Linked DNA regions of Homo sapiens. The protein of the gene in region 1 purifies or fractionates together with the protein of each later gene. This does not show direct contact. Each region holds a gene or a part of one and is shown on either strand. Other genes may lie near its edges.

Region 1 (7,032 bases):
TGTGTGTTTTAACTGAAGAGAAAAGCAGATGCAGCAAAGCACTGCTTGGGGGGAGCGGGTGGGGGTACATGGTGTCTCTGAATAAGATCTGGTGCCTGACCTGCAGCTCAGAACAGCTTGAGGCTGGCCAGTTGGCTTGGGTTAGGGAGTGACTTCAGACATCCCAGGAAAAAGAGGTTATCCAGATGTTTGCCAAGAGTTCTTTCTTCTGTAGGTGGAGCAGGAAGGAGAAAAATGCCCAGGCTGTTTGGTCATTTATTAAACACTGTTATGCACTGGTCCCTGAGAGCTCAGGAGTAATGGGAAGGCTGCCATGGAGTGGACTCTGTCCCTTTGCACTCAGTGCGATAAGAAGTGATACCCCTAATGTTTACTGAGCCAGGTTCCTTAGCACTTTCTCTATATTAATCCTTCTAATCTTTCCCACAACCCAGTGAAGAAAACACCAAGGTGACCCTCTTTATAGATCAGAAAACAGGCCTGGAGGGGACCCACGCCTTGCCCAAGGTCACAGGTTGGATACAGCAGAGCTGGCCTCCAACCGTGGAGCCCGTGCACTTAACATCTATTTGGATGGAAGGCTCGAAGGTTACCTGAGACAACCTGGTCAAGGTGATAATGTGGGAGAATGTGGCCAGTGGTTCCCAGATGAGTGAATGATCAGTGTGCAGTCACCAGAGGATGGGTGATAAACCGAGAACCACAAGCTCTTAACACTGTGGGGTGGGCGAGGCTTCATCTCCCAGGATGCAGCACTTGCTGAGTTGGGCAACAGGGGACCCTGGTTGATGGCCCAGGTTGGTTGGAAGCCTTTGGGAGATGTGCTCTGTGTTGGTGGGGAAGGCCAGGCATGGTTAGATCCCCTGTAGACTTGGGGAGCTCAGTTTCAGAAAGTTTCAAAGATCATCACTTGATTTCTGTGATTCACGTGATCTGAGGGCTCTGAAAGTGGTGGGTGAGTCCTGGAATTAAATCTGTTTTTTTCAAGTAGGAAAGACATGGGGTGGCAATGAGAGACATCTGTGTGGCTCAGAAAGATGTCTTGCTGAGGTCAGAGGGACAAGAGCCAAGGAGAACAAGAGGAGCCCTTCCCAGGACACTCACAATGACAGAGTGACGAGGGCCAGTAAAGAGTGTCAGGGGGTGAGAGCCCGGGTGTGAACTGAACCTACTGAGGAGAGCTGACGACCACAAAGCATCTTTTCATATCATGTTCGGAGCAAGGAGAACAAGGGCTTCATAGATCCATCGCCGTCTAGGGCAGCTGGTGTCTGTGAAGGGGAGGAAGGCACAGCTCCACTGTGCCCACAGCGGTCTGGACAGAGGAGGATCTGCAGGTGCAAAGGGCGCAGGCAGGTTCCCGGAGGAAAGCAGGAGCCACGTAGCGTGGGCTGCAGTGTGTGTGCTCAGGGCTCTGACCAAGAGAATGCCCTGGCCAGGGTATAGCATGACCTGGAATGAGATACCCCCATCTGAGGTGCTGTCTGAGAGGTGTTGGAAATGAAGCCCGGAGGTGGAAGAGACTCAAATCTGATGTTGGCCCTGGGAAAGATCCTAGACTAAGAAGAAGGCTGTGAGTCTGTGGGCAAAGGAGAGACGTGCATGAGGAGCTGGCGGGGGCTCCCTGGGGACAAGTCATGCCAGCCTCACGTCATTTTCCACCTTGCAGGTCTTCGGTCTGGCCCTTGTTCTGTTGGGGTTCTGGAGGACGTGCTGTGCCCTGGCCTTACTGACCTTACTCCATGCAGTGCTGATGCATGCGACAGCGGTGACCCTCCAGGGTCCCAGGTGGGATGAAAGGTCCCCAGCTAGTTCCTAGTTTCATCTCCTCATTTTCTCCATCCTCCTGCTCCTTCTTATTAAGATCTGGATGTTAACATTGATGGAGTGTGAAGCTGGGTGGGATATTTAATTCAGCAGTTGGCGGTGTCAGGATCCACAGTGGTCTCTGAAAGCTGAGATGCTGCCCTGAGTTTATCGGGATGGCATTTGGCAGATTGGAGATAAGTGCATCTGAATTGAGACACATAGCTTCCCTCATATGGTTTTTATGAAAATGAAATGAACAAGGTGCCTTATTTCATTTGTTAATACTATTGTTTGTCATGTAGATACTTACGTAGCCGATAAATGGTAACTTCTATTCTGATACCCTGAAGCATCCTGATAGCAAATGTTCCATCCTGCTGTAAAGGAGAACTGGTTTCTTCCAATTAGTCATACATGAGTAGGTCTGGGATGGCCTGGAGAGACAGCTTAGCCAGAGCGCATTTTACAGATGGAAACCTGAGGCTCAGAGAGGTTGAGTGCTTTGCTCGGGAACACAGAGAGGAGTGATGTTTCTGCCTCTGCCTCTTTGGGAGACACTGGCCGACATTCACCTCTGACGTCAGGCACCCCCTCTGAGGAATCCACTCAAAAAGGGCATCAGGAGTGGTGTGGAGCCTGCTGCACCACGTGGTTTGCGTCCTCTTCATGAAGTCACACGGGGTGGTCTGCAGGGCAAGGCGGGGTGGCGATGTTCCACAGGAGCTAGTCAAAAGCTTGTGACAAAAGGGAACGTGAGGTTTTATGTTCACTTTTCTTGCTTTCTCTCTGATTTATCCCATGCTTTCACTCCATGAGAGGGTTGGGCTCTCTGTCTCATCTCCTTGAGAGCTCCTGCAGGAAGTGGCTGGACGCAGGTACATCCTTTCATGGCTGGGCGGGAAGCAGGGAGAGGAAGAAGCTGATTTGGCCCAGGCTATATTTATGCATAGCAAGCCATGGAGGCTCTCATCCACTCCTAGATTCTCCCTGAGCCCTGGGATAAATATTTTCTAAGGATGAGAATTCTGGAATGCTGAGTGGAGTCTGGTTCTGCCAGTACCTCTCACCAGTGGAGGGGGCACTTGAAGAGCTTGAGTTCTAGTTTCCAGAACTTGAGGGTGGGGCTGGTGAGAGCGGGTAGGGATGAAGGCATCCCAGCAGGGCTGATACCACCTCCCCATGGGTGCCACCTTTACATGTGGTCAGTGCATGTCTTCCCTTCCACACCGTGGGCACTTCCAGGGTGAGGCTGAAAGCTGGTCCATCCATGGAGGTCCAGTTTGGCACAGGCAGGCAGTTCGCGAAGCTCTGCCAGGGGAGCAGAGAAGCGAGTGGATCCATGTGTGGGGAGAACCAAGAGTGAGCACTTCTGGCGAGTGGAGATGAGGTTACACATGCTCTCTCTAGGGGCAGGGCCAGGTGGTGGGGTGGCAGCCCCTTAGTGTGGGGGTGGGGGCCAGGCACAGCCAGACCCATCCTGCCAAGCCTGCATGTGCATTGCTCCAACTTTTGTCCTTCTGTGCACCTATGCCTACAGATCCCCTGTCCCCAGGTGCCTGAAGTGGCCTGGCACTCCTGAGGGTCAGGAGAAAAAATGAGTATGGCAACCAGCAAGGAAGGAAAACTGCCCTCAACCAGGGTGCAAACACAGTCGAATTAAGTCAGAGCTGGCAGGCAGAAGCCCTGTGTGCTCTGTGAATGTGGCAGCTGCTGCTAGATGCTGACAGGTGCAGGGGCAGGGCTGAGCCGGCGCCTCCGGGTGGCAGCCGTGTGTGTGTGTGTGTGTGTGTGTGTGTGTGTGTGTGTGTGTGTGTGATTGTTATTGCTGGCTCCTCTGGGTGGCAGCCATGTGTGTGTGTGTGTGTGTGTGTGTGTGTGTGTGTGTGAGATTGTTATTGCCGGCATCTCTGGGTGGCAGCTGTGTGTGTGTGTGAGTGTCTGTGTTTGATTGTTATTGTTCTGTGAGAGAGTCCTGGAGGTATAGTGCTCTGAGCTGAGGTGAGTTGTCACATCCATAGCAATCAGGATTCTTTGGATGCAAACCACAGCGATGGACTCTGGCCAACTTTGTGAAGAAGGAATTAATTAGAAGGTTATGGTGGCAGGTAGATCACAGTGTCAGAGGAAGAACTGGAGAAATAAGCTCAAAAAAGACCGGGATTGAGCTATTCAGAGAGTTCCAGTACCAGGCACACATAAGCAGCTTCTCAAACTGAAACTGGGTTTGGTTAGGAAGGATGCTGAGTAGCATAAAACAGAACCAAGCCATCTGACTGCTCTTGTCGTAGAGATCGCGTATTCCTCCTTTCCTGTCAGCTGGTTTAAAAACCTGGGGCAAAGGGGGACCCTGCAGTCCACCCCACTCTTCCTGAGATGCCCTGCGGGGGTTGCAGAGATAGATCAAACACAGGCTGTCTCTCCCCAGGGACCAACAGTCCAGTAGGTGATAGCGGCAACACTGACTATGGCCAGGCAGGCTGCTGAAGGTGGTCTCTGCAACCCGAGTCAGCATGGCAGCCCTGACGGTGTTTTGGTGTGAGCAGCTCGCAGATGCAGCCCAGTTGTTTTGCTTTCTGGGCTGCTTCTTGAGGGTCACCTCAAGTCTGCACACAAGGGTAGAGCTGCAAGCTCTGGAGGGAAATAGCACTGGGTTATAATTTCCACTGGAGGACATCTATAATTTCATGTCTCTGAGTGTGAGTTTGGCCACAGGCTCCTCTGTAGGTGTCTGCACGGGAACCAGTGAGGACCCTCAGGCTTGAGCCCCCATTCTGCTGGATCTGGTGGTCTGGAAGGCTGGGCATAGTGTGACTGCCTCAGCCCCTCCATTTGTGCTAGGGCTGGGGGAGAAGGAGGATGGGGTGGGGAGTTCTCTGACTTTGCACGGTGGGAGTACACCCTTCTTGGAGGATATGAGTGCAAATGGATGTCAAGGAGCCCAGAGCTCTTCAGAGCAAAGAGCTGGGCAAATTCCTGGCTCCCACTCTAACTCTCTCTCCTTATTCTCCCATACCTCCCTCGGCAGGGTTGAATTTCACAATTGGGTCTGACCTGGCTTAGTGTGAATGAAAAGTGGTCGTTTACAGGAATCCTCTCTGTCTCGCTGAATTCCTGCCCCTCAGTCTTTTCCTCACGATTGAAATATACCCAGCCCTTCTTTTCCACTAGGACTTTGCCTGTGCCATCTTACCATCCCTGATTGGTGAACTCGTATTCATCCATCAACACCCAGAGATAATATCACCTCCTCAATGGGACATTCCTCAGGCACCCCAGGCAGTCCATGGTCCATCCCTGATCTTGAAGCATTTCTCCCAAACCACTCAAGTGGGCTTGTCTCCATCCCAGGTCCTGTTACGAAGAGGTGTTTTTCTCTCTCATTGCATGTGGAGCAATACTTCCATGCTATTCATCCTGTTATCACAGAATAAAAGAACGACTGTCTCCCCTAAGAGATATGGTGTGGGTCCCTGTGGCTAGACCATGTGATCTTACCCATAAACAGTCCTCACAAACACTCTCGATTTACGTCTAACCCACTCTTGTCACTGCCTGGCATTCGCGTGTGCCGTTCTTTCTGCCCTCTCTTTTCTTTGTATCTGTCTGCCCTTTGGAGGCCTCCTGCCTCTTCCAGGAGGGTCTCTCTGATTATTCTGGTGCCCAGAATTAGAAAGTATATGGGGTACATGCTGTGGTGTGTGGTAAGTGTTTAACAGCTGGTTCTCAGCATGTAGCTGCAACATGGATTTTGGGTGATATTTTCATTTACAATAAAGTGTAAGATGAAAGTGGAACAATGAACATATGTCAGAACTTCACTTGTTTGTCAGTGATCTAAATAACTTCTTTCCTAAATCACATAATAGTTTCGGAATACTAGAAGAATAGTCCCTCAGCTTTTTGTGAGCTATTCACAATATAACAGCTATCGACAAGACAAAAATTTCAGTTTAATCTGCATTATTGACAATTTTTTTCCATTACTTTCTTAAGTCCAGACAATGAACAAAACAAGAAATCAAGCCTTGATTTATAGCATTTCCATAAATAATCCCATTCTGGCTGATTCCCTGATTTCTGGCCACTCACGATATCCCTGGATGTGGCATGAGGAGGAGTGGACCGTGGCAAGCCCCCGCACCGGCAGGTGGAGCAGCGTCCACAGCGTAGGCAATGGGAATGTGTAGTAGAATGACTAGGAAATGATGGGTTCTGAGTATGTATTGCCTGTGTTTTTAATATAACTTCTTTGACTGTAAGTTTGTATAGTTTAGTTTTGAATAATGTCTGAGTTAAAACAGCTAACTTGAAACATTCCTGATCATCTCACAAGCCACTGTGAGCTGGCTCCAGCACACCACTGGCTGCATACCAAGAAAATCAAGTTGCAGGCAGAGACGAAAACCTTCAGACAGAATTGCGTGGCTGTGTCCACTCAGTTTCGTCAGGGGGTGAGCTTTATTAAGTGCCACAGTAACAGATACTGTCATTGGTTCAGTCAACAACTGTTTCTAACCCCATCTCACTTGGCTTTCCTGCACTGCAGAGGTTGGGAAGCTAAATCCATGTTTCCCAGACTCTTTTGCAGCCAGGGTGCAGGCCTTTGACACAGATCCTCACAAGCAGCCAGATACATCACCCAGCCCCGGATGTGCAGTCGAGTCCCATGAGCTGAAGTCTTTGGCATGCAGGTGATATCTGTCACTCACGGTGGCAGGGACATCTGGACTTGTGGGGTGGCTGTGGTGGACTTTGTAGGAGTTTGGTCCCTTGTGATTGGTGCTGGTACCAGCAGTTTCTACTAGACAGTGCCAGGGCATGGTTAGGCTTTTTTTTCTGGCTACCCTGACCCTTGGAGAGCTCCCAAGCTTGGTCTCTGGCTCTCACAGGGATTTAATGAGCTGCATGATAGCCTTTAATAAGTTCCTTTCTGTTTAAACTACCCAGGTAGAGGCTGCTGTCTGCAGGTGGGAAGCCCTGATTGCTGGAACCTAAGGGATGTGAGAAATCACTGTGGAGTGTCAAGGTAACCAGGGATCTGCTCCTGGGACCTATTAATCCACCTCTTTTAGAAGGAGTCCACAGTCCTGTTTGTATTTGAATATTCATGAACATTAGAAGAGCAACTTAGTCTGGGTATGGCTATGGCTGACAGAAGTATCATGCTGTGTCACAGCTGATTATTAGATCTGCATTTTTTGCCCTTTAGCTTGTCAAAATAAT
Region 2 (5,116 bases), on another chromosome or scaffold:
ATGATAAGGTCAGGGATAATTCAAGATATTTAACAATAAGAATAGCAGGACATTAATCAGAATGGACTCTAACCCTGTCAAGATGGAGACCCTGATAAAATCTCATGGAGGGCTTCTTGTTAGTGAGCGGTGTCCTCCCAAATGTTGCTTCCTTCCCTGCTCTGTCAAAAAGAGATTCCAGCAGTAACTGTATTCTAGGATCTCTGATCTCTGACCTCTAAGCAAGGGCCACATGTTCTACCCTACTCAGCCTTAGAGGGGATTGGAGACTTTGTACTAGAAAAGCTGTTTTCAAGGCTCTTTGGGAAACAGAAAATGTGTCTCTGATGAAACTCCTCCATGCCCTTGATTGTTGGAGAACAGCCCTACTAGATACTGTCAAATCTTTTGTTTTCTGTTCTCTGTAGGATAAACCTTTAATGTCTTCATGTTGTGTACAAGATAAATCCAAACCCTAACTTGGTACCAGGCCCTTCAGTATCTAACCCAATCAATTCATCTAGTTTTTTCAAAGCATCAGAGGATATTGGTACAAGAAGCAGTCTAAGATCATACAGTCCAGCAGCTTATTTTACAGGCAAGGAAACAAAGATCCAGAAAGTTGAGCTGATTGACTCAAGTGTCACACAGGAACGTGTTCGCAGCTTCACTCTTGGATTTGCATCAGAAACAGTGAGGGGAGGTAAAAGGTGCTTGGATCTAGATTTGAGATCTGCTTCCACCAATTAGTTAACCTTTAAACTTCCATTTTTTAACACATAAAATGAGATTAATAATTAATGATTTTCGGCCTGGTGCAATGGCTGACGCCTGCAATTCCAGTACTTTGGGAGGCCGAGGTGGGCCACTTGAGGTCAGGAGTTCAAGACCAGCCTGGCCAACATGGTGAAACCCTGTCTCTCCTAAAAAAAAAAAAAATTATCCGAGTGTGGTGGTGTACACCTATAATCCCAGTTACTTGGGTGGCTAAGGCACGAGAATCGCTTGAACCCAAGTGATGGAGGTTGCAGTGAGCCGAGGTTGCAGCAAGCCAAGATCGCACCACTGCACTCCAGCCTGGGTGATGCAGCGAGACTCTGTCTCAAAAAAGAACCAAAACAACAACAAAAAATTAATGATTATCATTTATTGATTACCTGTCCCCCCAAGCATTCCTGATATATATATTACCTTTATTATATGCTACTATGACCATATGTTGTAATTACTGCAGGGTTAAGTCAACATCATAACCTAACTATTTTTAACTGTACTAAATGTATACGGTGTATTTCTGTGTCTTCATTTTTATAAACATTTATGGAATAACTTGTTTTGCAAGCATTGTGTGGAGAAATGTCAGGTCCCACCAAAGTTTAGGCCTATTTTCTGTCTTTGTATAGGAGTTTACAGTTAGACCAAAAGTCAGGCAGTCTCACCAAGTTAAAAAAAAAAAAAAGATGTCTAAATAATGACTTGAAATAATTCATGTAACGCAGATTTTTGTTAGTCTTTCCGGAAGATGCCTGCTAGTAAGTTTGGATGCACAAGAGGGCACACTCAGCATGTGAAATGGGTTTGTTTTTCACAGTAATGAAATGTGTATTACGTTAAGACTCTCTTGTTTAAAAAATTGTCTTAAAATAAATCTCTCCTGATTTATTTAGGGATTTTTGTTTAAAGTTGCTTGGCCCCCAGACACTCTGGTTTAGGCTATAACCCCGATGCCAGAGGATGAGTGGATTTAGGTCAGGGCTTGTCTGTTCTATCACCCTTCATTCTGTGTCTCCCAACTCTGCTGCTACTAGTGCAGCATTGCAATATGGGAGGAAGGAAGTGAAGCTAATGTGTATTAGCTTAGTCTCCCAGCCTCACAACACATGTAACTCTGTGACCTTAGAAAAGTTACTCATCCTCCCTAAATCTCAATTTCCTCAATTTTAAAATGTGGACAACACTCTACATAGCTCTTAGGTTTGTTGCGAGAACATGGGGAAAAAAATCCCTAAGCTAATGCCTTCGTTCATACTAAGTACCCAATAAACGTTAGCACCTACTATGAACTATTATCTTTTATTAGACATCTCTACTACATTCCAAGTGCTTAGAAGTGCTTTATACATGTTCCTTCAAATTAATGTCTGTGACAAACCTTTAAGACAGGTGTTATATCCAATTTTTATTCATTAAAAAAATGAATTAATGCACACAAACCACCTAGTAGAGTATCTGTCTCATGGTAAGCACACAGTAGATGCATCTATTATTATTTCAGATAAGGAAATAGGCACTGAGGATGAGTAACTTTTATAAGGCCACATAGGCAGTATGTGGAAGGGCTAAGATTCATACCCAAGTTTGTTGGTCTCTGAGACCTGAGTTCTTATTTCTACATGTACACACTCTTTTAAGGAATTACGAGTCTCCCAGGGCAGAACATTTTAAGATGGATGTTTGTATCTAAACAACACTTTAGTAAAGTGACAAAGGAAGATATCCATCACTCAGACCACAGCTGAGATTTTTTTTTCCCCATGGCTCTCATGTAAGAGAGGAGAAAGCAGCTTAGGTATTGATTTTGCTGGTGGTGTGCAGGGAAAGGAAGAGTGTTGGTTGTAATACACATACTGGGGTTAAGTAAGATGCTAAACCTCTCCTCCATTATTCTTCACAGAAATTTCTCCTTCCCTGGAACTTGGCAGTCTTTTTGTCTATACTTGTTTGGCATTGTTTATATAGACTATTTTGTTTTGTGAATTGTCATCGCTTTTACCTCCTGCTTTGTTATTTAGGTTAAAGAAAATATCTCATTCTTCTTGGTTTCCCAATTTTTACTGCAGTGCTTGACATATTATGGGTGGTTTTCCTTTACATCTGTTGATGATGGTAATGGGCTGCTAGATCGTTTGAAAAATCCTTCCAGGCCTCTATGCCAGGAGTTATATTGTGGAATTCTGAATGCTTACTGGTTGCTACTAGTGATTCTTGGTCATCTTTCTCCGATGTGCCTCAGAAGGTCTAGCTCTGGATTGATTCAGAGGAAACTAATTATGACAGGCTCTTGGTCCAAGAGACCTCTTATAAGTAGCAATCCAGTAGGTTGGTCATGGAGTACATGATTTCTGGCCAAACTTCATTTAGGCAGGTATTAAAATATACACATTGGGGAGGCTATGCCTTACCCTACTGCATGGGGGTACTTGACACACACTTTCAGTATTTGGATTGAGCATATCTTACCAATGGTATAAACAGGATAAAAACAATCTTGCTTTTCATTTAAAATCATAGCTAGAAGAGATAAGTTTCGTAATTTTCTCTTTTTTTGCCTGTGAATTATAGGGGTATGCAAAATTTGATATTTGGACCAGAAAAATGTTGAGGGTAATTGCAGTTTATGAGACAGAAACATGCCTCCACTGACACAATATAGTGATCAAAAATTTGCTCATGTCTTCTTTCAGGGCAATCATGACTCATGCATCAGTTCTTAAGAATGACAGAGATGTCCTTGGAATTAGTGACACACTGATTCGACTTTCTGTGGGCTTAGAGGATGAGGAAGACCTACTGGAAGATCTAGATCAAGCTTTGAAGGCAGCAGTAAGTCTTATTATTGTGTGTGTGTGTGTGTGTGTGTGTGTGTCTGCTTTATCTTGGGCATGGGGGGTCACTATATTTACAAAGTGTGGTCTCACTGTGAACTCTAAAGCTTTTCTGTTCCTGTAATAGACCAGGTGTATAAATAAACGTATAGGGAGCTCAGTCAAAGTGCATATTTAAAGGATGGTAGTATTCAGAAAAAGGACTTCTTGAGGAGTTGAAGCTATGGCCTATATGTTTAATAACATATTTTTCTTGTGCACTGTTATTATAGCACCCTCCAAGTGGAAGTCACAGCTAGTATTCCAGAGCTGCTATTAGAAGCTGCTTCCTGTGAAGATCAAATCTTCCTGAGTAATTAAATGGACCAACAATGAGCCTTTGCAAAATTTTCAAGCGGAAATTTTAAGGCACCTCATTATCTTTCATAACTGTAATTTTCTTAGGGATCATCTCTGTTAAAAAGTTTTCTGTATGTCATGTTATAATTACAGGTCAATTCTGTTAATATCTTTTTGTTAATTTTGCTCTATGTTTGCCTCTGAAGGAGGTGAGATTTGTGCTACTTTGGGAGATTATGTTCTTTTTTCATGTCTAAGATTTATTTTGATCATGTTTATAATATAATGGTAATTCATTTTTGATGTTTTGTGAAGAATTTAAATTTAAACGAATGTTCTTAAATCAAGTGTGATTTTTTTGCATATCATTGAAAAGAACATTAAAAGCAATGGTTTACACTTAGTTACCATAAGCCGAAAATCAAATACTTGAAAAGTTTACTGTGAAATTCTACTGATTTAAGACTATACTTAATATTTTTAAAAAAATAAATCAGCTGGGCGCGGTGGCTCACGCATGTAATGCCAGCACTTTTGGAGGATAAGGCGGGCGGATCACGAGGTCAGGAGATTGAGACCATCCTGGCTAGCGCAGTGAAACCCCCATCTCTACTAAAAATGCAAAAAAAATTAGACGGACGTGGTGGCGGGTGCCTGTAGTCCCAGCTACTTGGGAGGCTGAGGCAGGAGAATGGCGTGAAACCAGGAGGAGGAGCTTGCAGTGAGCCGAGATCGTGCCACTGCACTCCAGCCTGGGTGACAGAGCGAGACTCCGTCTCAAAAAAAAAAAAAATCTAATTATCAAATGCATCCCATTGTGATATTCCTACATTATGTGACATTAACCTATATTCCTGGGTCCTTTTAATTCCCAACTACTGCTCTTAGAGGTCTTAGCCTTTTATGTTAATTTTTATAAATTCAATTAAATAAATATTATTCCCAAATCTTAGTGTTTGCAGATTAGTTATAAATCCTATCCAAGGTAGGTTAAAGGCCACCGTTTTACAGATAAATAGTACTTTTTATATTTTTATCTGAAATAGTGCATTTGTTGAGAATAAAAGAAGGTATGTTTAAAAATAGAATCTTTTGGGCCTGGTGGTACGTCCTTGTAGTCCTAGCTACTTGGACAGCTGAGGTGGAGGATCTCCTTGAGCCTAGGAGTTCCAGACTGCACTGGCGTCACTGCA

What was found. The genes of interacting proteins can lie anywhere in the genome.
Region 2: the proteins of ZNF488 (region 1) and CTH purify together in Homo sapiens (affinity purification with mass spectrometry; 2 studies listed by BioGRID and IntAct, with this or other methods). This does not show direct contact.

The regions. Positions count from the first base shown.
Region 1 is NC_000010.11:47,374,264-47,381,295, reverse strand, and holds part of ZNF488 (zinc finger protein 488), read left to right. Parts: intron 1-434; exon of another isoform or gene 435-1,788; intron 1,789-6,756; exon of another isoform or gene 6,757-6,835; intron 6,836-7,032. UniProt on the Homo sapiens protein: Transcriptional repressor. Plays a role in oligodendrocyte differentiation, together with OLIG2. Mediates Notch signaling-activated formation of oligodendrocyte precursors.
Region 2 is NC_000001.11:70,435,245-70,440,360, forward strand, and holds the end of CTH (cystathionine gamma-lyase), read left to right. Parts: intron 1-3,443; coding exon 3,444-3,582; intron 3,583-3,856; coding exon 3,857-3,883; 3' UTR 3,884-4,607; downstream 4,608-5,116. UniProt on the Homo sapiens protein: Catalyzes the last step in the trans-sulfuration pathway from L-methionine to L-cysteine in a pyridoxal-5'-phosphate (PLP)-dependent manner, which consists on cleaving the L,L-cystathionine molecule into L-cysteine, ammonia and 2-oxobutanoate.